Homo sapiens: one gene and its partners. The protein of the gene in region 2 interacts with the protein of the main gene of each other region in a pairwise test. Each region holds a gene or a part of one and is shown on either strand. Other genes may lie near its edges.

Region 1 (7,023 bases), on a different chromosome or scaffold from region 2:
GCTCCTATAATCACCAACCACCTGCTCATCAAATCTGGCCGACCTTCTTCTAGTCAACACCTTTAGATGCACCTGGTCCAGTCTGGGTGACTGATTCTACTGCCTAGATTACAGCTCTGAGGGCAAAACCCCTCCAGGGAGGGCACCACTAGCAACACAGAAGTCACACAGCCCTAGAGCTTTTAAAAACACTTCTAACTAATTCATTCTAATATATTATTTCTTATGTATTATTATTTAGTCAACTAATTGTGAAGACTGTAGGAATGAGGGGGAAAGTTTTCTATAGTGCTACATGAAAATAAAACCTGTAATTGTGAACTTGTAAAACTCTATAAACATGACTATGGGTTATATGAAAATAGACAAAATTAAAATTAATTGTGAGGGCTGGGAAATTGTAAATTTCCTTTTTTCAGTATGCTTTAATAATTCTCTTTCAAATTACAAAGTGCACGTTTTAAAGAAAGCCCAATGATGAAGATGTTGACTCCTAAGCAGTGTGCCCACACCACTCCTGCCTGTGGCCCTCATTCTGCCTGCTGTGCCTTTGAAGGATTCAGCTCAGGAGGCTGGGATCAGCTTCCCTTCGCAGAAGGAGCCATACCAGGTTGGAAGTGGGGAGTTCCACTTCAACAAAGCCCTGGGCCACTGAGGGCGGGGAGCTGCAGGGAGGGCGGGAGGCTTTCCATACAGCACGCACAGCTGGCTGCCTCTTTTCTTTGAGTACACTTGGGCTGAGGCAATGAGCAAGCACAACTGCTTCGCCTGCAGTGCCCTCTCGTGGCAGACTTGCCTCTAGAGATAGCAGCCAGGCAAAGCCTGCATGCCAGCGCTGCTGACAAATCACTTTTGAGGCTCAGAGCTGAACAAAAAAGTATGAGAATGAGTCACATTGTGCATTTACATGTATGTCCTAGGAGAGGGTTATGTCCATCACTTGAGGCAGGACCAGTGGTCTGGGGTAGGGCAGCTGGGCATCTAAGAAGCCGGAAGCAAGGCTAACGTCCATCATAAGTAGTTACCATCCACAGACTGAACCCCCATGCCAGGCCGTGGAGCACAGCTCAACGTGGCTTTTCAAAGAGGTACTCAAGATCTGGGGCACGCAGTCTCTGCTCTTTGTTTTTGTTTTTAGCAAAGTCTCTCAGCAGGGCCATGACTTCATTTTCAAATATTTCTGGGGCTGGTTTAGCTTCTGCAAGAGAAGAGTGGGCAGAAAAAATTATGCCATAGTCAGTCAATGCTCAGGTATGAGAATCTTAAAACTCGAAACACTGGCCAAGAACCACAGATGGATATATAGACTGTCTCCATCCTTCTTCTAAATATACACGATGTTAGCCTATACCAGGGGGTGGCAAACTGTGTGAGCCTATATTTGCAAGTCGTTTTATTGGAACAGCTGCTCCCAATGGTTTACATATTACCCATGCTCCTTTTGTGTTATGACAGCAGAATTGGGTACTTGCAACAGAGACCATATGACTACAAGTAAAATACTTACTATCTGGTCCTTTATGAACAAGTTTGCTGACCCCTGGCCCGCACAATCTTGGCTGTACTATTTTGCTTTGCATTTGGCAATTCCATTGTTCCCCAGACATTGTGTTTTCCCTTGCAATGTATATATCTCTTGAAACAAAAGCTCTCTCCTTTGTCTATCAGTTAGAGGTCCTCAGTTTTAAGAGACAGAAACTAATAACTCTAGTAAACTTAAGCAAAAAGGAATTTATTGGAAGGATATTGGAGGCACACAGAACTGTCATGAGCCTAAAGAACCAGATTTCAGTGAACGGGCAACATAGGCACTGAGTCAGAAGAATGAGAAGGCCAGCCTCAGTCTACGGCAGTGGGTCTGGCAGTGTGCTGCTCCCCCTGACCTTTCTCTACACCCTTGGGACACTTATTTAAGATGCCAATTACAAGCAAAGCCTCCCACTGCCAAAGCCGAGGCAATGTGCTCCAGAATTACCCTTCCACCAACACTAGGTACGACGCCAGGAGAGAGAATTCCTCAAAACCAAGTCAGATTCTCCCTTACTCAGCACAGGGCCTGGCATCTAGTGAGGGCTCTGTTTTCATGTGACAATCAACATAAGATCAAAGAGGTTTTGGCTTCCCCCAAGAAAGTAGAAAGTTGGAAAGAATATTGCACTCACTGTAACAACAAGAAAAAGCCAGATAAATTACAAATATTATGACTTTTCTCAAAGATATCAGAGAACTGAGGTCACGAGGCAACCCAACAGACGAAACCTAAGGAAAAAGAGGCCCTTCAAAGGAGAAACGAGAGCCATGCACTTGCTCACCTGTGGCAGGCACAGGAAGAAGAGACACTGGACATCATACAAATGGGTAAAAGGAATTCAGCTAAAAAAATTTTTTTTTTTGTTTGAGACGAGTCTCACTCTGTCGCCCAGGCTGGAGTGCAGTGGTGCGATCTGGACTCACTGCAAGCTCCACCTCCTGGGCTCACGCCATTCTCCCGCCTCAGCCTCCCGAGTAGCTGGCACCACAGGCGCCCGCCACCACGCTCGGCTGATTTTTTGTAATTTTTTTTTTTTTAGTAGAGATGGGGTTTCACTGTGTTAGTCAGGCTGGTCTTGGTCTCCTGACCTTGTGATCCGCCCACCTCTGCCTCCCAAAGTGCTGGGATCACAGGCGTGAGCCACCACGCCCAGCCAAAAAAATTTGTTTTAAATTAATACAGACAGGGCCAGCCTTATGTTGCCCAGGGGAGACTGCAGTGGCTAGTCAGAGGTGCAATTCCACCACTGATCAGCACAGGAATTTCGACCTGTCCCATTTCCAGCGTGGGCTGGTTCACCCCTCCTTAGGGAATCGGGTGGTCCCCTGCTTCTGAGAGGTCAACATACTGTTGCCAACTTTACAGCAGACACCTGATTGGTATAGAGCACTGCAGCCAAGAATTCCTGGGCTCCAGCGATCCTGCTGCCTCAGCCTCCAGGGCAGCTGGGACTGCAGGCCTGTGCCACTAAAATTTGCAATGAATTGTTAAAAGCCAAGTGTGGGCTAGCATGAGTGTATAAAACCACAGACACAGGCTGGGCACAGTGGCTCACGCCTGTAATCCCAGCACTTTGGGAGGCCGAGGCGGGTGGATCACGAGGTCAGGAGATCAAGACCATCCTGGCTAAAACGGTGAAACCCCGTCTCTACTGAAAATACAAAAAATTAGCCGGGCGTGGTGGCGGGCGCCTGTAGTCCCAGCTACTCGGGATGCTGAGGCAGCAGAATGGCATGAACCCAAGAGGCAGAGCTTGCAGTGAGCCGATATCGCGCCACTGCCTCCAGTCTGGGTGACAGAGTGAGACTCCGTCTCAAAAAAAAAAAAAATTAGCCAGGTGTGGTGGCACGTGATTGTAGTCTCAGCTACTCAGGAGGCTGAGGCAGGAGAATCGCTTGAACCTGGGAGGTGGAGGTTGCAGTGAGCCGAGAGGGTGCCACTGCACTCCAGCCTGGGCGACAGAGCCAGCTTCCACTCTAAGCACACGTTAACGCTAGACACTAGTAATGCAATGAAGGTAACCAAAGCAAAAACAACCCAAGCTGAGCTTACCTCCCAACTCACTGACTTGATCCCCACACTAACAGTAAAGTAGAAGAAGCATCCCCAATTGTAAGCATAAATACAATTATGAGAAAATTACGAGACATATACACAAAAGAAGAAAAAAACAACACACTGTCAAGGGACAAAGAAATCAACAGAAGCAGACTGAGGGATGACCCAGATGTTAGAACTATCAGACAGGGAATTTAAAATGACTATGACTAATATTAAAGGCGCCAGTGGAAAAAGCAGACAAAATGTATGAACAGATGAGAAATTCTAGCAGAGTTGGAAACTCCAAAAGTCAAATGGAAATGCTAAAAACAAATACAGTAGCAGATATGCAGAATGGTTTCAACAGGCCCATCATGAGATTTGACATCATCAAGGAAAGAATTAGTGGAAGACAGGTCAATAGATATTATCTAATACAAATAACCCAAACTGATGCACAAAGAGAAAAAAGAATAAAAAACACAAAACAGAGAACCCAAAAGCTGTTGGACAGACTGAGCACAGTGGCTCACGCCTGTAATCCCAACACTTTAAGGGACTGAGGCAGACGGATCACTTGAGGCCAGGAGTTCAAGCCCAGCCTGGCCAACATGGTGAAACCCGTCTCTGTGAAAAATACAAAAAAATTAGCCAGGCATGGCGGCACGTGCCTGTGGTCCCAGTTGCTCAGGAGCCTGAGGCACAAGAATCGCTTGGACCCAGGAGGCAGAGGTTGTAGTGAGCCAAGATTGCGCCACTGCTCTCCAGCCTTGGTGACACAGCAAGACTGTCTCAAAAAAACAAAAAACAAAACCCCCACAACAGCTGTTGGACAATATTAAACCATTTAACTAAGTATAACTAGAATCCTAGAAGGAAAAGAGGGAGAAAACAAAGCAGAAGAAATAGCTGAAGGGGTAACAGCTGAGAATTTTTCAACAATAATAAAAGATATGAAAACACAGATCCAAGATGCCCAGAGAACCCAAAAGCACGATAAATATCAAATGCCTACATATATAAATATCAAATAAATACCTATGTATATAATATTGAAACGGCTAGAAACCAAAGACAAAATATTGAAAAGATTCAGAAAGAGAAGACACATAAAAAGGAACAAAGATACAGCAGACCTCGTCACAAACTATGGAAATGAGAAAACAGCACATGGTAACACCGGAGGGAATATGAAGCTGGTGATGCACTGAAGGTAACCAGAGCAAAACCAAAGTCCAAACCCAGCGGAACTCCTGACTACCCGATCTTGTACACTAAGAGCTGGCGGTAGAAGTGTTTCTATTTAACAGAAGAAAAAACATTGTGACCCTCGAATTCTATATCCAGTGAAAGTATCTTCCAAAATGGAAAATCTGGCCAGGCATGGTGGCTCACACCTGTAATCCCAGCACTTTGGGAGGCCGAGGCAGGTGGATTGCTTGAGCTCAGGAGTTTGAGACCAGTCTGGGCAACATGGCAAAACCTCATCTCCACAAAAAATACAACAACAACAAAAATTAGCTGGGCATGGTGCTGCCGGCCTGTAGTCCCAGCTATTCTGGAGGCTGAGGTGGGAGGATCGCTTGAGCCCAGGAGGTGGAGCCTGCACTGAGCCATGACTGCACCACTGCACTCCAGCCTGGGTGACAGAGTGAGATCCTGTCTCAAAAAAAAAAAAAAGGGAGGAGTGGTGGGGGGCGGAATTTGAAGAGACATGTCACCAAATATACATAAAGGGCTGATAAGCCCTTGAAAAGATCCTCAATATTATTAGTCATTAGGGACATGCCAATTAAAACTATAGTGATGTACCAATATATACTTCTTGGAATGGCTAAAAACAAAAACAAAACCCTGATAATACAAAGTGTGGGTAAAGATGTGGAACACCAACCCCTCCCTTCACATCCAACACCCTGGCAATCACTGATTTGTCCCTGTAAGTTTTGCCTTTTTCAGATTATCATGTAAACAGAATCACATTCTTGGAGTCCAATTATGTACTGAGTATGTACTTGTTGAGTCTGATCTTTTTTTTTTTTTTTTTGAGATGGAGCCTCGCTCTGTCACCCAGGCTGGAGTATAGTGGCATGATCTCGGCTTACTGCAACCTCCGACTCCCTGGTTTAAGAGATTCTCCTGCCCCAGCCTCCCAAGTAGCTGAGATTACAGGCGCCCACCACCACGCCCAGTATTTTTAGTAGAGACGGGGTTTCACCATGTTGGCCAAGATGGTCTCAATCTCCTGACCTCGTGATCCGCCCACCTCAGCCTACCAAAGTGCTGGGATTACAGGCGTGAGCCACCGCGTCTGGTTGAGTTTGACCTCTTTTGCTTAGCACAGAAGCTGGCAAACTATGCCCTGTGAGCTAAGAATGATTTTTAGAGATTGGGTCTCACTCTTGCCCAGGCTGAAATGCAGTGGCGTGATCATAGGTCATTGCAGTCTCTGAACTCCTGGGCTCAAGTGATCCTCCCAAGTAGCTGGGAATACAGTGTGCACCACCAAGCCCAGCTAACTTATTTTTATTTTTGGAGATAGGGGGTCTATGTTGCCCAGGCTGGTCCCAAACTCCTGGCCTCAAGAGATCCTTTGCCTCAGCCTTCCAAAGCGCTGGAATTATAGGTGTGAGCCACTGCATCCAGCCAAGAATGATTTTTTAATGGTTGGGGAAAAAAAATCAAATGTATATTTCATAACTGGTGAAAACAGTATGAAATTCTATTTTCAGTGTCCACAAATAAGGTTTTATTGAAACACAATCATATTCGTTTACCTGCTATCTGTGGCTGCTTTCATGCTACAAAGGTCGAGGTGAGTAGTTATGAGAGGCTGTATGGCCTGCAAAGCCTAAAATATTCATTATCTGTATTTACTATCTATATTTACCTATTATAGAAAAAGCTTACTATCTATATTTACCTATTACAGAAAAAATGTACTAAAAGTTTTATTTATTTATTTTTGAGACAGAGTCTCATTCTGTCACCCAGGCTGGAGTGCAGTGGCCCAATCTTGGCTCACTGCAACCTCCACCTCCCAGGTTTAAGCGATTCTCCTGACTCAGCCTCCCGAGTAGCTGGGACTACAGGAACCCGCCACCACACCCAGCTAATTTTTTGTCGTTTTAGTAGAAACGGGGTTTCACCGTGTTAGCCAGGAAGGTCTCGATCTCCTGGCCTCAGGTGATCCACCCGCCTCGACCTCCCAAAGTGCTGGGATTACAGGTGTTGACTCACCGCGCCCAGCCCTATTTATTTTTTTGAAAGAGTCTCACTCTGTCGCCCAGGTTGGAGCACAGTGGCGTGATCTTGGCTCACTGCAACCTCTGCCTCCCGGATTCAAGAGATTCTCTTGCCTCAGCCTCCAGAGTAGCTGGGCGCACCACCACACGCGGCTAACTTTTGCATTTTTAGTAGAGACGGGGTATTGTCATGCTGGCCAGGCTGGT
Region 2 (6,958 bases):
ACCCATATGCATTATTTAAATACCTATATAATAATCATAAAACATGTTTATGCCATAAGTGCAAGGATTGAAGGACAATATGAAAAGTGTAGTTAGGTGAATCTTACAAATTATTTAAAGAGACTGTTTAAGGTTAGTCAAGCAGAGTGACATACAGAAAAGAAGACTACTATTAAATCATTGGCAATATCCCTCTGTATTAGGCCACTCTTGTGTTGCTATAAAGAAATACCTGGCTGGGTATGGTGGCTCATGCCTGTAATCCCAGCATTTTAGGATGCCAAGGTGGGAGAATTGCTTGAGGCTTGGAGTTTAAGACCAAAAAAAAAAAAAAAAAAAAAGGAAATACCTGAGACTGGGTAATTTGTAAACAAAAGAGGTTTAACTGGATCACGGTTCTGCAGGCTGTACAGGAAGCATAGTGGCATCTGGTTCTGGGGAGGCCTCAGGGAGCTTTTACTCGTGTTAGAAGGCAAAGTGGGAGCGGGCACATCACTTGGCAAAAGCAGGAGCAAGAGAGAGAGGGTCAGGTGCTACACAGTTTTAAATAACCATATCTTGCAAGAACTCACTAACACGAAGACCACATCAAGCCATGAGGGATCCGCCCCCATGATCCAAACACCTCCCACCAGGCGCCACATCCAGCATTGGGGATTACAATTCAACATGAGATTTGGGAAGGGACACAGACAGACCCAAACCATATCAACCCCTAATGCCAGCAGAACCACTGAGTAGCTTTAGGATCTTCAGAAAGGATTTTAAAGCTCGAATAGTCCCAGCACTGTAATAATTACAAGAGAAAATGTAACTACAATGTAGCATCTACACAATAATTGTGATTCTCTTCTCCGTTCTTGTTCAATCCAATGTTTAATATAAAAATTCAAGTGAAGGTAAATAAAAGCATTGGGGAATGACCTTGCCATGTGGTATTAAGAAGAAGATTCTCAAGCACAACTGCCTAAGTTGCAATTACCACAGCTACATCTAGAAGGAAGATGTGAGAGTTTTCATTCCACATTAACTAGAAACCTAGCATGAGGCAGATGGCTGGAAGCAGTCGAGGGAGTGTCCAAGACCTTACACAGAAAATCATGTTCAGAGAGGAAGCTTGTTGCTCATTCCTTTTTTGTGCCCAGCTGCCTGGGTTCCCTTCTCCACCATTTTATTTGGTAGTAAGCTATCTAGAGAACTTGCTCCCTACGCTGAGCCAATAAGCGAAATGTGTGAGCTTTGAAGGATACAGTTTCATTTCGAGGAATGGAGAATATCTGTGCAAAGTTGGGGCAGTTCAGAGCAGAGTGAGCTGCAGACTGTTCTGCAGGTATGGGGCTGGAAGTCTTCACACGACCTCATAGTCCTGGCACCCAAACTTACTCAGACAATGGTGTGTCCGGAATTGGTGGGTTCTTGGTCTCACTGACTTCAAGAATGAAGCCGCGGACCCTCGCGGTGAGTGTTACAGCTCTTAAGGTGGCGCGTCTGGAGTTTGTTCTTTCTGATGTTCAGATGTGTTCGGAGTTTCTTCCTTCTGGTGGGTTCGTGGTCTCGCTGGCTCAGGAGTGAAGCTGCAGACTTTCGCGGTGAGTGTTACAGCTCATAAAAGCAGTGTGAACCTAAAGAGTGAGCAGCAGCAAGATTTATTGCAAAGAGTGAAAGAACAAAGCTTCCACAATGTGGAAGGGGGCCTGAGCGGGTTGCCACTGCTGGCTCGGGCAGCCTGCTTTTATTCTCTTATCTGGCCCTACCTATGTCCTGCTGATTGGTAGAGCCAAGTGGTCTGTTTTGACAGGGCGCTGATTGGTGCGTTCACAATCCTTGAGCTAGACACAAAGGTTCTCCACGTCCCCACCAGACTCAGAAGCCCAGCTGGCTTCACCCAGTGGATCCCGCACCGGGGCTGCAGGTGGAGCTGCCTGCCAGTCCCGCGCCGTGCGCTCGCACTCCTCAGCCCTTGGGTGGTCGATGGGACTGGGCGCCCTGGAGCAGGGGGCGGCGCTCATCGGGGAGGCTCGGGCTGCACAGGAACCTACGGAGGCCGGGGGCTCAGGCATGGCGGGCTGCAGGTCCTGGGCCCTGCCCCGCGGGAAGGCAGCTAAGGCCCGGCGAGAAATCGAGCGCAGCGCCGGTGGGCTGGCACTGCTGGGGGACCGAGTACACCTTCCCGAGCAGCCGCTGGCCCGGGTGCTAAGCCCCTCATTGCCCGGGGCTGGCAGGGCCGGCCGGCTGCTCCGAGTGCGGGGCCTGCCAAGCCTACGCCCACCTGGAACTCTAGCTGGCCCGCAAGTGCCGCGCGCAGCCCCGGTTCGTACTCGCGCCTCTCCCTCCATACCTCCCTGCAAGCTGAGGGAGCCGGCTCTGGCCTTGGCCAGCCTAGAAAGGGGCTCCTACACCTATAAGTGAGAATATGCGGTGTTTGGTTTTTTGTTCTTGCGATAGTTTACTGAGAATGATGATTTCCAATTTCATCCATGTCCCTACACAATGAGAACATATGGACACAGGAAGGGGAACATCACACTCTGGGGACTGTTGTGGGGTGGGGGGAGGGGGGAGGGATAGCATTGGGAGATATACCTAATGCTAGATGACGAGTTAGTGGGTGCAGCGCACCAGCATGGCACATGTATACATATGTAACTAACCTGCACATTGTGCGCATGTACCCTAAAACTTAAAGTATAATAATAATAATAAAAAAATCCAAAAAAAAAGAAAAGAAGAGAAAAGAAAGGGGCTCCCACAGTGCAGCGGTGGGCTGAAGGGCTCCTCAAGTGCCGCCAAAGTGGGAGCCCAGGCAGAGGAGGCGCCGAGAGCGAGTGAGGGCTGTGAGGACTGCCAGCATGCTGTCACCTCTCAGTGGGAGCAGGTGTGACAAGAGTTGGGCAAATCAGACCTTTAATCCACCCTGATAGGCTGGAGTGTGGGCTTATGGCATTTCTCCTTTGACCCAATTAACCTCCACTCCCAATGTATCTCTGTGCAGAAGGCTCAGCTAGGTGTATCAGCCATTGTAAATCCTCAACATAAATTATAATTTAACCTAGAATACAGAGACTAGGTAGCAGGAGGAGAGGAAATGTAGAGATACTAATCTCTTCTCCCTTATCAGAAAGAAACCTAGCATAAGAAATTTCACGCTTAATGGGCCAAAGAGTAAATCAGAAAACTCCATGGGTGATGGTATGCTCATGGTGGTGGTGGTGGTGATGGGGAATTATTTGCCCTCCTGTGACCTCCCTTGGATTAATTTCTCCCCAGGACAATGGGAAAAATCATTTAATCCTTGGAGTTTTTTTTTTTTTTTTTTTTTTTTTTTTTTTTTTTTTTGCTTGAGAGTGACTCTGATCCTGTTTCTGATGGTCATGTTCCTCAGCATCATACTGAGTAAGTCACTGGCCTTGTAGCATCTGGAGTGATTGGAGTGATCCAAGATCCCTAGTTCCCATGTCACAAATGAGGATCCCACATATCTGGGACAGAGATGGAACATTATTTCTGGGTGTGTCTATCTAATCTATTCATCCTATCTATCTAATTTCTCATCTATATATATATTTGCCTACCCATCCATCCATCAATCCATCTTAGCTGTACGTTTATCCATTCCATCTATTTATCCTATTATCTATGTATCTATCTATCATCTATTAATAGCTATCTATCCATCTGTCTAATATATCCATTATCTATATCTACTTTATCTATCTACCTAATGTATCCATCCTATCTACTCTATCTATCTGTGCATCTACCCATCCATCTGGACCCTGAGCTGATTCCTCTGCACCCAGCTGGCCTGACGCCAGGTGTTGATTGGCTGCCCAGGCTCAGGAGACACATCCAGGCTGCAGGGATTGGTTGGCCCAGCCCAACCCAGCCAGCCCTCCCACAGCCTTTGCTATATCAAGGGCCAGGGTCAAAGGCCTCCCAGCAGACAGAGAGAGGAGGTTGTCTGGGACAGACTGCTCCTGACAGAAGGTGCCAGGCTGGGGGTGGCAGGCCTGGGGGGGGTCCTGGCCTGGGATGGAGAGGGGCACTGCCCAAGGCCCACGCAGCTCCTGGGTGCTGGCCTGGAGGATGGGTGGTTTCCGAGTAACTGAAACCAAGCCCCTGGCAACCTCACAGTGATTCAGGCTGGGCCTTTCTGGACTTTAATCAGTCTCTCTCTCTCTTTCCCATTCTAAGTGCTTACTAGGGAACTGGAGGCCACTTGGCTGCTGGTTTTGGTTGGGCCTTTCTGGACTTTACCTCTCAGCCCCTTTTTACCCATCCCTGAGCCCTCCCTGCTCTACCTCCGGCACTGCCCGTCCCTGCCTCTCCACTGTCCCTGGAGGTCCCTGGGCCGTTCTCTGGGCCTCAGGATCTCACCGTCCATCCCGTCTGCCCTGCAGGATGTCCCAGCTGAGCCTGTCCTGGCTGGGCCTCTGGCCAGTGGCAGCATCCCCTTGGCTGCTCCTCCTGCTGGTCGGGGCCTCCTGGCTCCTGGCCCATGTCCTGGCCTGGACCTACGCCTTCTATGACAACTGCCGCCGCCTTCGGTGTTTCCCACAACCCCCAAGACGGAACTGGTTTTGGGGACACCAGGGCATGGTGAGTGTGGCAGCAGGATGGGTCTAGGTCTCAGGATGGATGGACTTCCTGAGGGGTACGAGGCTTAGGGAGTGGGGGTGAAGGGGTGGGCTGGGATCTGGGGTGGCAGAGAAGCAGAGGAGGCATCTTACTCATTCCTCTGCTTATTCATTTCTGTGAGGTGCCTACGCAAGCCCTTCTCACTTCCTTGTCCTCCCACTCCAGGCCTGCATTGAATCCTTTTCCTGCCTGTCTTCCCACATTAATGCACCTCTGCGGGGCTCCTGGGCAGAGGGTTGGCTGCACAGAGAGGCGAGTCCCTGGCATTCCCACATTCTCCATTGCTGGACTCGAGGCTTCTTATGCCCACTGTCCAGGGTCCTCTCCTTGCCTGGACTATTTCCTGTTATGAGGGTACAGCTGGGCCAGAGGAGAGGCATGGGCCGTCTCCCACTTCCACTACACCCGAAGGCACCTTTCTCTTATATTCTTCTTCTTATCTCCCTCTTATCAATGAGACCTGTTGCCAAACCCAGATAAAAGTTGGCCACTCACTTCACCTTTCAGAAGCTTTCCTTGGCCTTTCTCCTCCCCGTGACCTTGCCCTCTGACTTAGACCGCTCTCCTCTTTGGGGAATGTGGTCTTAGTCTGCTCATTTGCAAATGGCAGGATTGATGGATGTGTCCACAGATAAAGTGGAAGGGTGCACAGGACACACTAGCACAGAGCCTGCTGCAGAAGCTGCTCCCAGGTGGGAGCCATTGTCCTGATGGACAGTTAGAGTCACCTCTGCTCCACTAGTGGCTGCTGAAAAGGGAAGGTCTCCCATGTGCAGAACCTTCTCCATGGGAGGAACTGGAGCCTCTGTGGATCAGCCAGGACATGAAGGCATGTGGGGACCAGCCTTAGGGACATGTCCTGAGGCGATACTGCTCCCCACAAATCTCCCCTGTGAGGACCTCCCCATATAGCTGCCTCTGGGCTGAAATGACTCCCAGAAAAAGAAAATCCTTCCTCTCAAGATAACTGGGCCTCTGTGAGTGGACAGTGCGTCTTCTCCCTCTGCCCTGGGATGCACCCTTGGGACTTGGAGATGGACCCAAGAGAGATAGAGCAGGAGGAATGTGGATAGATAGATAGATAGAGCAGGAGGAATGTAGATAGATAGATAGATAGATAGATAGATAGATAGATAGATAGCTAATAGGATAGATAGATAGATGCACAGATAGGATGGATAGATGGATGGATGGATGGATGGACAGGCACGTAGGTAGATAGATAATAGAATAGATGGATGCATGGACACATGGATGCACAGATAGCATGGATGGATGGATGGATGGATGGATGGATGGATGGATAGATAGATAGACAAATAATAGGACATATGGATGCATGGACACACGGATGCACAGATAGGATGGATGGATGGATGGATGATGGATGGATGGGTAGATAGAGTAGATAGGATGGATAGATTATGTAGACAGATGGAGTAGATATATATGATGGATAGATTAGACGGATAGATGGCTATTAATAGATGATAAGCAGACAGACAGATGAATATATGGATGGATGAAAGCACAGATAAAATGGATTGATGGATAGATGGGTAGGCAGATAGATATATAGATAGAAAAATTAGATAGATAGGATGAATAGATTAGACACACCCAGAAATAATGTTTGACCAACTACCTGGGCATCCCTTAGCCCAGTCAAGTAGACACCTAGAATTAACTATCACAGAAGGTAATGACCCCTGCCTTGCTTGCAGGTCAACCCCACAGAGGAGGGCATGAGAGTTCTGACTCAGCTGGTGGCCACCTACCCCCAGGGCTTTAAGGTCTGGATGGGACCCATCTCCCCCCTCCTCAGTTTGTGCCACCCCGACATCATCCGGTCTGTCATCAACGCCTCAGGTACCATCTGGAACAGCTGGTGGGGCAGTGCATTTGAGGCCTGCACTTCCGCTATCCCCAAGCTCCTGTGTGGGCCCTGCAGTACTCTGGCCTCTCCTTTCCTTCCCTCTCAGCTATCTTCATCTTTCTTTCATGTATTCATCAATTTCCATCTCAGCGTCTCCTCTCTCTATTGCCATCTACCCCCTGTTCTGGTGTTCTGGGCTGCCCTGGAACCCTAAGAGACCTCAACCCAAGGCCCAGTCCTGGAGGAACCCCCAACTTTAAGGAGATGGACCTGGATAGAGATATCCCCAACTTCATGGGATCAGGAAAGGGCCAGAGGGAGATGGATCACAGCCCAGGGAAGAACAAGGTCTCTGCTGGGGCAGGCTGGAAGGCTTCCTAGAGGAGGAGTTACTGGAGCTGTGTCTGGAACAATGAGTAGGAATGTTTGAAAGGAGAGTGCAGG
Region 3 (7,870 bases), on a different chromosome or scaffold from region 2:
GGGGAGGGGTGCACTGGGAGGGTGTGGGTAGGAGAGGGGAGGGGTGCCCTGGGAGGGTGTGGGTAGGAGAGGGGAGGGGTGCCCTGGGAGGGTGGGGGTAGGAGAGGGGAGGGGTGCCCTGGGAGGGTGGGGGTAGGAGAGAGGTGGGGTGCCCTGAGAGGGTGGGCGTAGGATATGAAGCAACAGTGACTCCTACCCCAGGGGCCCAAGGGTCCTGGGGCAGGGTGGGGTCAGGAATCGGGAGGGATGGGGTGTCTCTTCCCCCATCAACCCTCTGGCTGACAGGCCACCGGACTCCTCAGTCACAGCAAGGAACCTGTCCTGCTCCTGGGAGCAGGGCGCCTGTGGAGAACGGCCCCCTCACAGCCTGCCCACACTGCTGCGATGTCCCCGCATGTCTGCACATCCTCCCTCCGAGACGGTCCCATCGTGCAGTGCGGGGCTTGCAGTGTGTAATTCTGTGTTGAGGCAAATTAACCACCCAGGGTGTTAACAACTCACAACTTTAATCCACTGCCCACCCAGATGTCTGACCGGGGCCCAAGGAAAGATGGGTGTGTGGTTGGCCTTTCAAGCGGGTGCTCTAGATCATGGGGCCAGGAGACGCCGTTGTGCAGGAATGCATTTAGTGCCTTCAAATCACGGCACCTCTGAGAAAGCACCGTCTACACACTTCAGCAACATCAACCCCCCTGACGATCTCTTCTACAGAAAACGTTCCCATCAGAAAAGTCTGTTTTTTTTGTTTTTGTTTTTGTTTTGTTTTTTGTTTTTTTTTTGAGACAGAGTTTCACTCTTGTTGCCCAGGCTGGAGTGCAATGGCGCGGCCTCAGCTCACTGCTACCTCCGCCTCCTGGGTTCAAGTGATTCTCCTGCCTCAGACTCCTGAGTAGCTGGGATTACAGGTGCACACCACTACGCCCGGCTAATTTTGTATTTTTAGTAGAGATGGGGTTTCTCCAGGTTAGCCACGCTGGTCTTGAACTCCTGACCTCAGGTGATTCACCTACCTTGGCCTCCTAAAGTGCTGGGATTACAGGTGTGAGCCACAGCGCCCAGCCCAGAAAACTCTTAAAGGGGAAACTAAAAATGATGGACAGCGAGGGAAAACTACCAGCTGGAGCATGGCTTTTGGATGAGTGGAATTCAGAGCCCTGGCTGTCCGCCAATCAAACACTAAAAGCACTTGCCGCACTGCGGCTTCGTGTGAATTTCACCCCTCCTCCTGACTTTATTCCCCTAGAAATTATAACATTTGGAGAAACCCTTCCAAAAATGTGAACCAGGAGGTTAGCAAAGAGGTGGCCTAATTTGATATCTGAAGAGACAAGCAAGATCAGAAGGTAAAACCTTAAAACCAGGCTGCTGGGGAGTTCCTTGTTCTGTCCTGAGGTCCTAGCTAGGTGAGCACGTCATCGGCTAGATGTCCAGGCAACAACAGAAGTGATCGGCTCAATTCCATGGAGGAAGAGACCGCACATTCTCTACATCTGTGTCTCTCCCTCGCCACCCAGCAAGGCTTTTCTTTCATTCTTCCTTCAGTCGGATATTTATTAAGTGATCACTACCTGACAGACACTTGGGGGGCTAGGGATATAACGATGAAAAAGATGTAATCCCTTTCCTTGAGGAGCTTAAAGTCTAGTGGGGACACTGCTGACGCAAAAAGCAATTCTTTTTTTTTTTTTTTTTTTTTTTTTTTGAGACACAGTCTCGCTCTTGTTGCCCAGGCTGGAGTGCAGCGGCATGCTCTTGGCTCACTGCAACCTCCGCCTCTCGGGTTCAAGTTATTCTCCTGCCTCAGCCTCCCAAGTAGCTGGAATTACAGGCATGCACCACGCCCGGCTAATTTTGTATTTTTAGTAGTGATGGGTTTTCGCCATGTGGGTCAGGCTGGCCAAAAAGTAATTCTAATCAAGTGTGGTAAGAAATAGAGCAGACATGAGCAGGGCGGGAGAGGGCCTCTACCCCAGTAATGTCAGGTGACTATCAGGTGATGGCCAGGCGGTTGTTACACTGTCTTTCTAAAATAATATTGGTCACAGCCAGCGTTGGGAAAGACAGTCTCCCAATAGATAGAAAATACCTGAACTTGGTGATCAGCAGCTTCCTGGTAAGAGCTCAGGAATTGGGCGAGTGGGCTCAAGCATCTACACTAAGAAGCAAAATGGTGGAGTTTAGCTGGTGTGTGTGACCTTCCTCTAGTGCTGCTCCGCGGGTAAGGGAAAAACGCCTCAAGTGAGCATGCGCACGACTTCAGTAAACACACTGCGCATGCGGCCCCTCCCAAGTGCCTGTGCGGCAGGCAGGCGCCAAGTCAAGGGTCTAACAGCACATTTGGGTGTCTCAAGTCACGCACTTGGCCCTTTTCCAAGTGTACTTTACTTCCTTTCATTGCTGCTCAAAAACTTTTTAATAAACCTTCACTCCTGCTCTCAAACTTGCTTCAGCCTCTCCCTCTGCCTTAAACCCACTTCTGCCCCTCAGCCGAATCTCTCCCCCGAGAAGGCAAGGATTGAGTTTGCTGCAGACTCGCTGGATTCACAGCTGGTAACAGTAAGTACCAGGCAGGGGCATCCAACTTAAGGTGTCATGGAAGCACATGGAGGAACCTAATCCTATCTGGCAGAAGCAAAACGAAGCTTCCCGGAGGAAGGGCTGCCCATGCCCAAACTTGATGGACGATGAGATACTAGGCAGGAAGAGTATTCTAGGTGCAAAGGCCAGAAGTTGACAGACTGAGGCAACAGGAGAAGGTAAGTGAATGGCGCAAAGTCACACAGACGCCAAGCTGCAGAGCCAGGCTCACTGGAGTGGAAGCGTGCACTCTCATCTGTGAGGCTAGGCTGTTCCCTGGCCGTCACCTCACCCTTTCATCTCTGCTTACCTGCATCTGGTGTCAAGAATCAGAATGGGAGAGACAGAACCTGGAGAAAGGCTGCGTCTTCAGAGTGGGGCTCCACTCCTCCAGCTCCAGGGCTGGACCTGAAGGTTGTCTTTCCAGGACTCTTTCCAGGAGGGCCAGGGAGGCTCTGTATATACGTAGAGGTCACCCAGGCGTGTGTGTGTGCGCGCCCCCACGCCCCTGCCCACAGGCCTGCATTGAAGGCGCTTCCGCTCCCCGGAGAGCCCTGTCCTGATGACCCACCCTCTGCTCATTTTCATGTGATTCTAAGGCAGGAAACGGGAGACATGGCCTCATGAGCTCCGCTGTCCTGATGAGTCACTGGATGCACCCGTGAGAAACACCTCACCCTCCGCTCTCCCCAGGCAGCAACACTTGCCACACCCCAGCTGTTCCTGTCCTCATCTGCCACCCCGCGAAGAATTTCGGCTCTTTGACAGAACAGCACCGAGCAGGGCAGCCACCCCTTTTTCCTCATCACTCTCCTTACCTTGCCCTTGGCTGACTCGATGTGTTGCATGGTTCCTGTACTAGACGTCTAACTTTTTTTTTTTTTTTTTTTTGAGACAGGGTCTCACTCTGTCACCCAGGCTGGAGTGCAGTGGCATGATCTCGGCTCACTGCAACCTCCGCCTCCCACACTCAAGCAATCCTCCCACCTCAGCCTCCTGAGTAGCTGGGATTACAGGCACCTGCCACCATGCCCGGCTAATGTTTGTATTTTTAATAGAGACGGGGTTTTGCCATTTTGGCCAGGCTGGTCTCGAACTGCTGACCTCAGGTGTTCGCCTCAGCCTCCCAAAGTGCTGAGATTACAGGTGTGAGCCACCGCACTCAGCCTCTTGTTCAAGCCCCAGGCCACTATCATCTTGTACCATACTCTCACCAAATTGCTGAGGATTTTGTGGTGCTCTCTGTGTGGGAGATCCGTGACCCTCTATGGACAAGCTCCTATTCAAGATTCAGTTCAAACATTCCCAGTGAAGTCTGCCAGGATTTCTTTACTCCGAGTTAGGTACTTCTTTCTCTATGCTCCCATTGCATTTTAAACATCTAGATATTATATACAGTAAAGTGCACAAATCTTTTCTTTTCTTTTTTTTTTTTTTGAGACGGAGTTTCACTCTTGTTCCCAGGCTGGAGTGCAGTGGCACAATCTCAGCTCACTGCAACCTCTGCCTCCTGGCTTCAAGCAATTCTCCTGCCTCAGCCTCCCAAGTAGCTGGGATTACAGGCACGTGCCACCACGCCTGGCTAATTTTGTATTTTTAGTAGAAACACGGTTTCTCCATGTTGGTCAGGCTGGTCTCAAACTCCCGACCTCAGGCGATCCACCCGCCTCCGCCTCCCAAAGTGCTGGGATTACAGGTGTGAGCCAGCACGCCCAGCCTAAAGTGCACAAATCTTAATGTTAAAGTCTGATGAATTTTTACATGTATACCCTGGTGAACCAGCACAGAAATCAAGATACAGGACATTCCAAATCCCCAGAGGTTTCATTGTGTCGCCTGTCATTCGTATCCCTTGTCCCCAGTGTTAACTTTCATTTTGGCTCTTATAATAATTGATTAGGTTTTAGTTGTTCTTGAATTTCACATAAATGGAATCAAACAGTTTTCTTTAAAAAAAAAAAAAAAAAAGGCGGTTTTGCTGTGTCATCCAGGCGGGAGTGCAGTGGCACAATCATGACTCACTGCAGCCTTTTGCCTTCATAGGCTCAAGTGATCCTCACACTTCAGCCTCCTGAGTAGCTGGGACCACAGGCAAGCGCCACCACGCCAGCTGATTTTTTAATTTCGTGTACAGATGGGGTCTCACCATGTAGCCCAGTCTGGTCTCGAACTCCTAGGCTCAAGTGATCCTCCTGCCTCGGCCTCCCAAAGTGCTGGATTACAAGCGTGCGCCACCGCGCCCAGCCCAGTATGGCTTTTGTGTGTGGCTTTCTTCACTCAATATTCTATATGTAAGATTCATCCATCATGTAATTTATTTTTCTTTTATTGCTGAGTATTATTACATTGGATATTACAACTTTTTCTACTCTTAATGGACATTTATATTTTCAACTTTTGCCTGTTATAAATAATGCTGCTATGAATATTCTTCTGCATGTCTTTTGAAGGAACTATGCACTAATTTTTCCAGGGAATATTCTTAGGAGTAGGATTGCTATCATAGGGCAGGTGAATATTTAATTTTGGCAGATATTGCCAAACAGATTCCCAAAGTAGTCCTAATTTACACACCCACCAGCAGTGTGTGACAGTTCCAGTTTCTACACATTCTCACAAACATTTTTAATTTTAGGCATTGTGGTGGGTGTTTAGTGTAATCTCCTTGTGTTTGAATTTGCATCTCCTTGATGAGTAAGCACCTTTTCATATACGTATTAGCCATTTGAAGATCCTCTTTGAGAAGTTCCCGTCCATGGTTTTTGCCCATTTGTTATGGGTTATCTTTTTTTCTGTTTTCTGGTTCATTATAATTCCAGGTATGAGACCTTTATCAGGTAAATTTATTGTGAATGTTTTCCCCCAGTTTGTGGTTTGACTTTTTACTCTCTTTATTATGTCTTATTTTATTTTATTTTATTTTATTTTATTTTATTTTATTTTATTTTATTTTATTTTATTTTATTTTATTTTATTTTTTGAGACAGAGTCTAGCTCTGTTGCCAGGCTAGAGTGCAGTGCCACGACGATCTTGGCTCACTGCAACCGCCATCTCCCGGGTTCAAGAGATTCTCCTGCCTTAGCCTGCCGAATAGCTGGGATTACAGGCATGGGCTGCCACGCTCAGCTAATTTTCGTATTTTTAGTAGAGACAGGGTTTCACCATGTTGGCCAGGATGGTCTCAATTTCCTGACCTCGTGATCCACCCTCCTCGGCTTCCCAAAGTGCTGGGATTACAGGCGTGAGCCACCCCGCCTGGGCTTACTTGAAGAGAAAGTACTGATTTTAATTAAGCTCCATTTATGCATCTTCTTTTATGGTCAATATTTTTGTGTCTGCTTAGGAAATCTTTGCCCACTTCCCACTGGAGTGTGACTCACTTCTTACTCCACCGCTGTGAGGTCCTTGCAGGCAGGGACTAACTCTTACTCTGCTCTGTATATTCTGAGCCTCACACAGAGCTTGGAACATGGTAGAAGCTCAAGAATGACTTGATGAATGAATTAATTCGTGCAATGCATAATTCATGCAACACAGTCTCTGCACAGAGATTTTACTTCCAGTGATGAAAACAAACGATTACTGAGGAAACCCCTGATGCACATACATGAGAAGGGATCGTTATGACTGGCTATCACAGTTCCATTTTTAAAAATAAAATTGGAACTCTTCATTAATTTTCGTGTCATCCTTGCACGGGAACCACGTTAAACTAATCTGCATCGTCCCAATTTTAGTATATGTGTTGTCAAAGCAAGCACAGTTTAAGTCTTCTAAACTGTTTATGAGCTGCTTTCTATATAAGAATTTCTGTTTTTTTTTTTTTTTTTTTTTTTTTGAGACGGAATCTTGCTCTATTGCCCAGGCTGGAGTGCAGTGGCGCAATCTTGGCTCACTGCAACCTCCACCCCCAGGTTCTAAGCGATTCTCCTGCCTCAGCCTCCTGAGTAGCTGGGATTACAGGTGCCCACCACCATGCCTGGCTAATTTTTGTATTTTTAGTAGAGACGGGGTTTTGCCATGTTGGCCAGGCTGGTCTCGAACTCCTGACCTCAAGTGATCCACCCGCCTTGGCCTACCAAAGTGCTGGGATTACAGGCGTGATCCACTGCACCTGGCCAGCAAAAGAGATTTCGCATGCAGTGTCTGTTAGAACATCTCATATTTAGGCAATCAGAATAACTGAATGGCTGATTGCCGTATATCACTCAGATTTTTTTTTTCTCTCGATATGGGGTCTCGTACTGTCACCCGGGCTGGAGTGCAATGGCACAGTCTTGGCTCACTGAAACCTCTGCCTCCTGGATTCACTCGATTCTCCTGCCTCAGCCTCCCCAGTAGCTGGGATTACAGGCTCACACTGCCACACCCAGCTAATTTAATTTTTTAATTTTCTAATTTTTAGTAGAGACAGGGTTTCACTATGTTGGCCAGGCTGCTCTCGAACTCCTGACCTTGTGTTCCGCCTTCCTCGGCCTCCCAAAGTGCTAGGATTACAGGCGTGAGCCACCACGCCTGGCCTAGCACTCAGATTTTTAGATGATATCTCCATGTCCAACCCAATGGCTTATGTAGATATCATTAAAATGTTGCTTGTGGGACAAAGGAAAGTGCTGGAATTTGTTTTTAATCCCTTAAAGTGTCAAACTTAGTGTGGGGCTGGTGATGGCAGCTGTGGGTTTTTGCTCCTTCGGGTAAACTTGTGATGATTAATTCAATGATTATCTTATGGACAAGACACTTCTTTCTTTTTTTTTTTTTTTTGAGACGGAGTCTCGCTCTGTCGCCCAGGCTGGAGTGCAGTGGCGCGATCTCGGCTCACTGCAAGCTCCACCTCCCGGGTTCACGCCATTCTCCTGCCTCAGCCTCCCGAGTAGCTGGGACTACAGCGCCCGCCACCACAACCGGCTAATTTTTGTATTTTTAGTAAAGACGGGGTTTCACCGTGTTGGCCAGGATGTTCTCGATCTCCTGACCTCGTGATCCGCCCGCCTCGGCCTCCCAAAGTGCTGGGATTACAGGCGTGAGCCGCCGCGCCCGGCTGAACAAGACACTTCTTTAAGAAATCATGTACTTGAGATAAACGGGTCTCGTAAGGCTAGCGTTGGGACTATCTCTTCATTTCCATGTGGCGAGCCTCCTAGGGCAACAGAGGCACGGTCGCTGCCATGAAAGCACTGAAGCTTCACCTCTTTGAGACGTGTTAATAACCGCGGAGTGTGGCTCTACTGGAGATGGAGCTACTTGCTGTTACTTTGTCGGTGATGCTCCTAGGGAGGAGCAAATGGGAGT
Region 4 (7,367 bases), on a different chromosome or scaffold from region 2:
GATGAGGAATAATCAAAATGATGGGATTCTGGCATTACTAGGCTTCATGAAGGTAATACCATCAAAATAACATTTTGATTCTTCACAGTCACCGTTCATTGACTTTCTCTTTTTTTTTTTTTTTTTTTTTTGAGACAGAGTCTCTCTGTTGCCCAGGCTGTAGTGCAGTGGTGCAATCTTGACTCACTGCAACCTCTGCCTCCTGGGTTCAAATGATTCTCCTACCTCAGTCTCCCAAGTAGCTGGGATTACAGGGATGCGCCACCACACCCAGCTAATTTTTATATTTTTAGTAGAGATGGGGTTTCACAATGTTGGCCAGGCTGGTCTTGAACTCCTCACCTCAGATGATCCACTTACCTCGGTCTCCCAAAGTGCTGGTATTACAAGCATGAGCCACTGCATCTGGTCTTTCATTGACTTTCTATAATAAAATTCAAAGATTTTCCATGAGTTTTCATTCTCTTTGATCTCTGTGTAATATAATTGATTCTCTTAGCCAGTTCTTCCTTCTTGAAATGGTTTACTTGGCTTTTATGCCATGTTAACTTACTAATTACTTATGGCAACTCAAATATATTGGTTTTATTGCCAGCATTTATTCGCCTGACTTCTGGCAAAATAGCACATCACATTTCTTATGGGAAAACCTCCTATAGTCTAAGCCCATGTAATTTACCTTCACTCACAGCTCATGATGTGGGTGTTGATTGGCCCCAGCCTGATCACCAAACTGTAATCTCCCAGCTGCAGTAACTGGGGCAGGAATGGTACCACAACTGACAAATCCAATTACATACAATATAAGTTTGCTAGGGCTTTGGAGAAAGAGGCTCTTTTTCTGTCCTTTCAGACATGAGTGGAAAAGGATATTATATTAGGCTGTTCTTGCTATAAAGAAATATCTGAGACTGGATATTTTATAAGAAAAGAGGTTTAATTGGCTCACAGTTCTGCAGGCTGTACAGAAAGCACAGCACTGGCATCTGTTTCTGGAAAGATCTCAGGAAGCTTACAATCATGGCGGAAGGCAAAGGGGGAGCAGGCACATCACACGGTGAAAGCAAAGGACCAGATCTCCTGTGAACTCAAAAGGAGCTCATTTATCGCCAAGGAGATGACCCAAGCCATTCATTTGGGATCCACCCCCAGGATCTAAACTAGTCTTGTCAGGCCTCAACTTCAACACGGGGGATTACATCTCAACATGCGATTTTGATGGGGACAAATATCCAAACTATCTCAGGTATAGGGCTTGGAGTTTGCTACAGCCCTTTGAGCACCACATAAAATTTAAGAATGGAGCCTAAGGAGTAGGAAGCAGAGTGGAGAAATGGACGTCTGTGTGACATCCTGGTGTTTTTAGTCCTTTATCCAACTGCACTTGACGCCAACTTATTAGAGAGTTTTCAGAGACAATAGACAATAAGTACTCCCTCTTTCCCATTATTTTGGCTTAAACCAGTTTGATCTCGATTCTCTATCTCTTGCATCCAAAACAATTCAAAAACAAACAAATAAAACAACAATATATATATATGTATTTTACCATGTACATACATATGCATATAAATTCATAGAGAAAGTTCTGGAAAGATATATTTCAAAGTGGTAGAGGTGGTTATCTCTGGCCAAAGGGGTCTGTTATGGTGGGAAAGACGATTGAGAAGGGGCTTTTCGCCTTTCTTTATTGTTAGACTGCTTTGGAACATGTTACTGGAGGTTGTAAAGCAAATATCCTCAAAGCTGGAACTATAGAACTCACTGCAAACCAATAATGACTCTTGTAATTAAATTTGCCCTGCAATAGCAATTAATTATATTTCAAAAATACCCTTTAACACTCTCGTCAATGAGTAGTTGCTGCACCATTATCTGCTCTTCAAATGAGAGAAAAAAAAAAAAAGCAAAGCACAAGCTAATCTTGTGGTTTGTGGAAAGTTTTACGGTAAAACAATGGTGGTGTTGACATTCATCTCTTTTGATTCTCAGCCCATGGGTTTTCCAGTTCATCATAAACCGCAGCTGGGGCCGACTTTGGGGAACTCCATATTAGACTCACGCGCTGATGCTAAGTTGAACTGGACTCCCTCTCAAGGCTGAGACGAATTCTGTTTAACTCTCCGAAGCTTTTTTTTTTTTTTTGAGATGGAATCTCGCTCTGTCGCCCAGGCTGGATTGCAGTGGCACGATCTCGGCTCACTGCAACCTCCGCCTCCTGGGTTCAAGCAATACTCTGCCTCAGCCTCCCGAGTTGCTGGGATTACAGACGCGTGCCGCCATGCCCGGCTAACTTTTGTATTTTTAGTAGAGACAGGGTTTCACCACGTTGGCCAGGCTGGTCTTGAACTCCTGACCCCGTAATCCACCCGCCTCAGCCTCCCAAAGTGCTGTGATTACAGGCGTGAGCCACCGCGCCCGGCCTCCGATGCCTTTTTTTTCACGTCACATTTCTTTTAAAATGTAACCTGACCGCAGATACATAACTGTCCTAATACGGAACAGAATTTTTAAAGTAGTTTCTTGTTCTATGACCCCAAAGCTGAATTTCAAGCAAGGAATGCTCAGGAACCAAGATGTTCACTGCACCAGCTGAGACAAAAAGTAGTTTATTTTCATCTCAGCAAGAGGGAACTGTCAAAGAACCAGATGCTTCTCATCTGCGGAGCCCTTCTCTTCAGAAGCCGTGGGAATTGGCTCACCACCAGGGGGCGCAGTTTTACTATACCGTAGCATGCCGCGGAAAAGGCGCGCTCTCACCTGCAATATTGTCCGAGGTCTGAATATTAAAGAGTTCATTGCTGCAGATCTAAAGGCTCTCTCTGTTTAACTGATGCCTGGGAATGACGGTAGAGCCTTGCTTTAAAGCCAGACGATAACATTTAAATAGTTAAGCCGTCTGGCTTCATTAGTTTATTTTTCCTTGTTGCTGGCAAGGAAAGTACTATATTGTAGAGATAATCGTGACTGATAATCAAAACGAAAGCAGTTTTGACAAATTCTAATATAAGTTTTTACTGAAACAGGAATGACAAAATCCTTTTGTCTGAAAGGAAAAAAGTTATAGCTGCATGAAAAATAGGCCCCAGGCTAAGAAAGCTTTTGCTCAAATAAGGGAAATAAAAGAGCAGTGGAATTGTAGGAATAGAATCATATGATGCTTGACTTTTTGCCCTCAGCCTGAAGAATGAAAGCAAATTAGAGGCACAAAACATCTTTAGCAGTCCCAGCTGCTAGGAAGGCTGAGGCAGGAGAATCGCTTGAACCTGGGAGGCGGAGGCTGCAGTGTGCCGAGATAGCGCCACTGCACTCCAGCCTGGGCGACAGAGCGAGAATCTGTCTCAAAAACAAAACAAAACAAAACAAACTATCTTTAGCCCCTGATGCGCAACTGTATATTTTAAAAACATTTAAATTAAAGGGGGAAACAAACCCCAAATGAACCAACAACTGTTAATTCACTCAACAGTTTAAAAAATTGGTTGCAAATAACGTTATCTTTGCTTTGTTTCAAGTAAATGAGGCTGTTAAAACAGTGCCTCATGGAGGGCAACAGTGGGGATTCTCAGGAGAGAAGCTATCCTACCTTTTGGTTAGCATGTTGGGGCGGGGAAATGGAGACTGCCTGCCGAATCACAAATCAGGGTCTTGAGTTTTCTTTCTATTTCTGGGAATTACCCGTTACATGAGTGGAATGCATATATGTGAATTTTCTTTTACAGGTCGGGGATCCATGGAAGGAGGGTTTGGGATTCACCACAGAGATATGTTCTCTGTCCTCAAAGAATCAAATGTACCATTCCTTTAAAATAAGCATAAATTGAGGAGGGACTGGCGATGAGAGTGGAAACTAGCTATAGAAATGGGAGCATGCAGCCCTGAATTGCTCCAGAACAAACACATTTAATGCCAGGGAAGTAGACCACGCTGGGTAATGTCACAATACTATAAAAGGAAGGGTACTTGCTAGGTCCTATTCTAGGATATTTTTTCCAGCCCTCTCTCTAGGCTGCTGGAAGGACAGTGAGGCTGGTTTAGGTGCTCTCTCCCTCCTCTCCAAACACGGCAAACATTCTGGGTGGCTTCCCGTCTGGAAGCCTGTTGCCTGATGGCATCGCCACATTGGCTTGCTCCACCGCTGCAGCTCGGAAGGCAGGGTTAATTCCATACGGTTGCCAGAGCCCTAAATGAGGGAGCCTAGGTCAGAGGTCGCACCCACCGGGAGGGCGGGGTTTAGGGGTCCGGGGCGGGCTGAGCCTGGCCCCGCCCAAGGAGGGGGCGGGACGTTTCCCGGGCCCCGCCCCGCCGGCCCGGGGTTGCACGTGACCCGCGGTCCCGCCTCCCGCCCGCTCCGCAGCGCCAGCTCGGCAGGCGCGGGGCGTGAGTGTGGAGTGAGACCCGCCGGGCTCCAACTCCGCAGCGTCGGAGCGCGGCGGGCAGCAACTTTCTCCCCGGAGCGGCCGTGGCGGCGGCTGCTGCCGTGGCAGCCGGAGCGGAAGCCGGGAGGAAGAAAGCGGCGGCAGCGGCGGTTGCTCCCGCCGGCTCGGGCTGTCTAGCTCGCCGAGACTGCCGGCCCGCGGAGCCGCGTCCCCCCGGGCAGCCCCGGGCCCCTGCCCTATGTCCCGCAAGGCAAGCGAGAATGTGGAGTACACGCTGCGGAGCCTGAGCAGCCTGATGGGCGAGCGGCGCAGGAAGCAGCCGGAGCCGGACGCGGCGAGCGCGGCCGGGGAGTGCAGCCTCCTGGCTGCCGCCGAATCGAGCACCAGCCTGCAGAGCGCGGGCGCGGGCGGCGGCGGCGTCGGGGACCTGGAGCGCGCGGCGCGGCGGCAGTTCCAGCAGGACGAGACCCCCGCCTTCGTGTACGTGGTGGCCGTCTTCTCCGCGCTGGGCGGCTTCCTGTTTGGCTATGACACCGGGGTGGTGTCAGGGGCCATGCTGCTGCTCAAGCGGCAGCTCAGTCTGGACGCGCTGTGGCAGGAGCTGCTGGTGTCCAGCACGGTGGGGGCGGCTGCCGTCTCGGCGCTGGCCGGAGGCGCCCTCAACGGCGTCTTCGGCCGCCGCGCTGCCATCCTCCTGGCCAGTGCCCTCTTCACCGCCGGCTCCGCGGTGCTGGCTGCGGCCAACAACAAGGAGACACTGCTCGCCGGCCGCCTGGTCGTGGGACTCGGCATCGGTGAGTTCGGGCTCCGTGAAGGGCGCCCGGGATCCCATTGTCACCGCCCTTGACCCTGGGTGTTGCGTGCCTCTTGCCCATCGGGGTCCCCGTCTGGTCTCCCAGGGTCAGAGAATCCTCCACTTCTCTGGCCTCCAGAGCCCATCTGTTTGTTGGTCCAGCCTCCAAGGCTCTCCCGGGAGGTGGGAGGGTCGGGGGGGAGGGGGTGTCACTCTAGTCTCCCTCGAGCGCACGTGGAATCTTTGATAGGCCACGGACCAGTCAGTCCAAGTGGTTGTTGCCTCTCAGCACTTCCAGAAACCTAGCTGAGCACCAGCTCTTTCCTTGATCCAGCCTAACCTGATGCTGCTTCTTGAGCTTACGAGGGTCTCTGCTTTCCTGCACTGTCCCACCTTGCCTCTCCACTGCTAGCCCCTTTCGTTTTCTGGGGCTCCCAGCCTGGAACCTAGACCATCGTCAAGTTACAGTGAGATAATATTTAGAGTTAAGTAATTCTGGACTCTGAAAGGTTTATTAGCGACCCCTGCCCTCTTTGCTTATCTAGCATTTGTCTTTAGATGGCATCTCCTTTTGCTTTTATGCTTTTTCTATTGCCTTTCAGCTTTCATTCTTTTCCCAAGTAAATTCCATTCTCCTCTGTTTTTCCAACTTTTTCATTTGAATCCTTTTTTATCCATTCTCCTCTTTGTTTTTCCTCTCCTGCTTTCCAGTTGGGAACCAAATTATCTATTAAAGGTCATATTCACTTCCTTAATTCATTTAGGAGCTACTCCCCCTGTGGATAAATGCCCCGCAAGATAAATGTTTGGAATTTACTTCAAAAATGAAGGCATTAAGGTTCTCCTGGCGTTGAATTTTTTTCACCCTGGTTGCTGAGCAGGGGAGGTACAATTGGCAAGTTTTTGGCAGAGGGAAGCTATTTGGAATGTGCTCTGTATTATTAGAAAGCACTTTTGAGGGAAAGTGGGGGGCTGTGACTTAAATCTCACTAGTAATTTTTCTAAGACACACCGCTGATGCTTTTTTAATGTTTCGTTTCATAATTCAGTTTTTTGTTTCCCTTAGGGTGCTGTTGAAGTATTTCTTCCCTATGGCTGGGGCTTGATGAAAGCGCTTTAAACCTGGGGCTGCTGCTGATCTGTGTATTCACCACTTGTTTGATGTTTGTGCTTTTCACCCTTTCTCTGTGGGTTCTGAAGGGAAGCAAAGGCCATATATTCAACTCCACATGCGGGAACCATGAGCCTAAAACCCAGCTCACTGCACTTTATATTCAAAGTTTGTCAGTAGTGACCTTCCTTTTGCTGTTTATTGTACTGTTAATTAGCAAAGGTAGGGCAAAGCTCTCCGTAACATATTAAGTTGGCACAAAAATATCCAAAGTGACCAAAAAATCCAGCTGAAATGAAACCTATTTGTGTGGAAACTACTTGGGCCTTCAGGACCCTTCAACAAATAACCTGCTGTTTAAGTGACCACGATTCTTTTCTCAGCATTGTCTGCTTGGGACATCTGGACCTTTTTTGTTGCTTCTGACATAGAAATAACATCATTTTAGGTAGCAAGAATTGTTCTGTCAACCTCAATCTTTTCTGTAATTTTGAAATTGAATCATGCTTTGCAGAGCTGTCTAAATGAAGCTTCCTAGTGTTTTGCTATGGCAGGTATTGGTTAAAATCTTGGGTATTATGTTTACTCTTTTTATCTGACCTGCGAATTGAGCCCTGTTCTGTGTAAGGTCCCCTTCCAGATGTTGTGAGCTGAATAGTGAGGAGAATGTATTATACTTTAGTAAATGTAGCAAGCTGGGGCAAAAGCAACGTAGAACTTGCTAAGCTTTATAAGATAGGTTATCAGAGATGGCTGATGAATTCAGAGGGGGTACAGTTATCTCCAACAGAGGGAAGCCAGAAGCTCTTACCAATGGAAATGGTATGTTGACATGTCAGTATTTTAACAGAAACGAGGAAAGGACGTTCTAAGCAAGGGGCAAAATGGGTAAAGGAAGGAAAGCATAGGGCATACTTGGGGAATAGGTGGAAGCAGCAATAGAGGACAAAGCAGGAGATCAGATTGGAAGTGTTGGTGTGCAAGAGCTGTGGAGGCCTCTCTGTCTTGCAGCCTCATTCTGTGGTCTCTGGGCTGGTTGGTTCAATAGAGAAGCCCAGTTTAGATATGTTCTCCATTCAGTTCT

What was found.
Region 1: the proteins of CYP4F2 (region 2) and SDHAF2 interact in binary tests that used the Homo sapiens proteins (3 or more experiments, as listed by UniProt).
Region 3: the proteins of CYP4F2 (region 2) and TM4SF19 interact in binary tests that used the Homo sapiens proteins (3 or more experiments, as listed by UniProt).
Region 4: the proteins of CYP4F2 (region 2) and SLC2A13 interact in binary tests that used the Homo sapiens proteins (3 or more experiments, as listed by UniProt).

Annotation. Positions count from the first base shown.
Region 1 is NC_000011.10:61,440,116-61,447,138, reverse strand, and holds the end of SDHAF2 (succinate dehydrogenase assembly factor 2, mitochondrial), read right to left. Parts: intron 1,199-7,023; coding exon 1,068-1,198; 3' UTR 406-1,067; downstream 1-405.
Region 2 is NC_000019.10:15,895,055-15,902,012, reverse strand, and holds the start of CYP4F2 (cytochrome P450 4F2 precursor), read left to right. Parts: upstream 1-3,938; 5' UTR 3,939-3,987; intron 3,988-4,400; 5' UTR 4,401-4,401; coding exon 4,402-4,599; intron 4,600-6,362; coding exon 6,363-6,507; intron 6,508-6,958. UniProt on the Homo sapiens protein: A cytochrome P450 monooxygenase involved in the metabolism of various endogenous substrates, including fatty acids, eicosanoids and vitamins.
Region 3 is NC_000003.12:196,335,377-196,343,246, forward strand, and holds the start of TM4SF19 (transmembrane 4 L6 family member 19), read right to left. Parts: upstream 3,013-7,870; 5' UTR 2,888-3,012; intron 1-2,887. UniProt on the Homo sapiens protein: Negatively regulates vacuolar (H+)-ATPase (V-ATPase) activity by interacting with members of V-ATPase V0 complex and hence inhibiting V1-V0 complex assembly. Required for multinucleation during osteoclast differentiation.
Region 4 is NC_000012.12:40,103,059-40,110,425, reverse strand, and holds the start of SLC2A13 (proton myo-inositol cotransporter), read left to right. Parts: upstream 1-4,344; 5' UTR 4,345-4,617; coding exon 4,618-5,173; intron 5,174-7,367. UniProt on the Homo sapiens protein: H(+)-myo-inositol cotransporter. Can also transport related stereoisomers.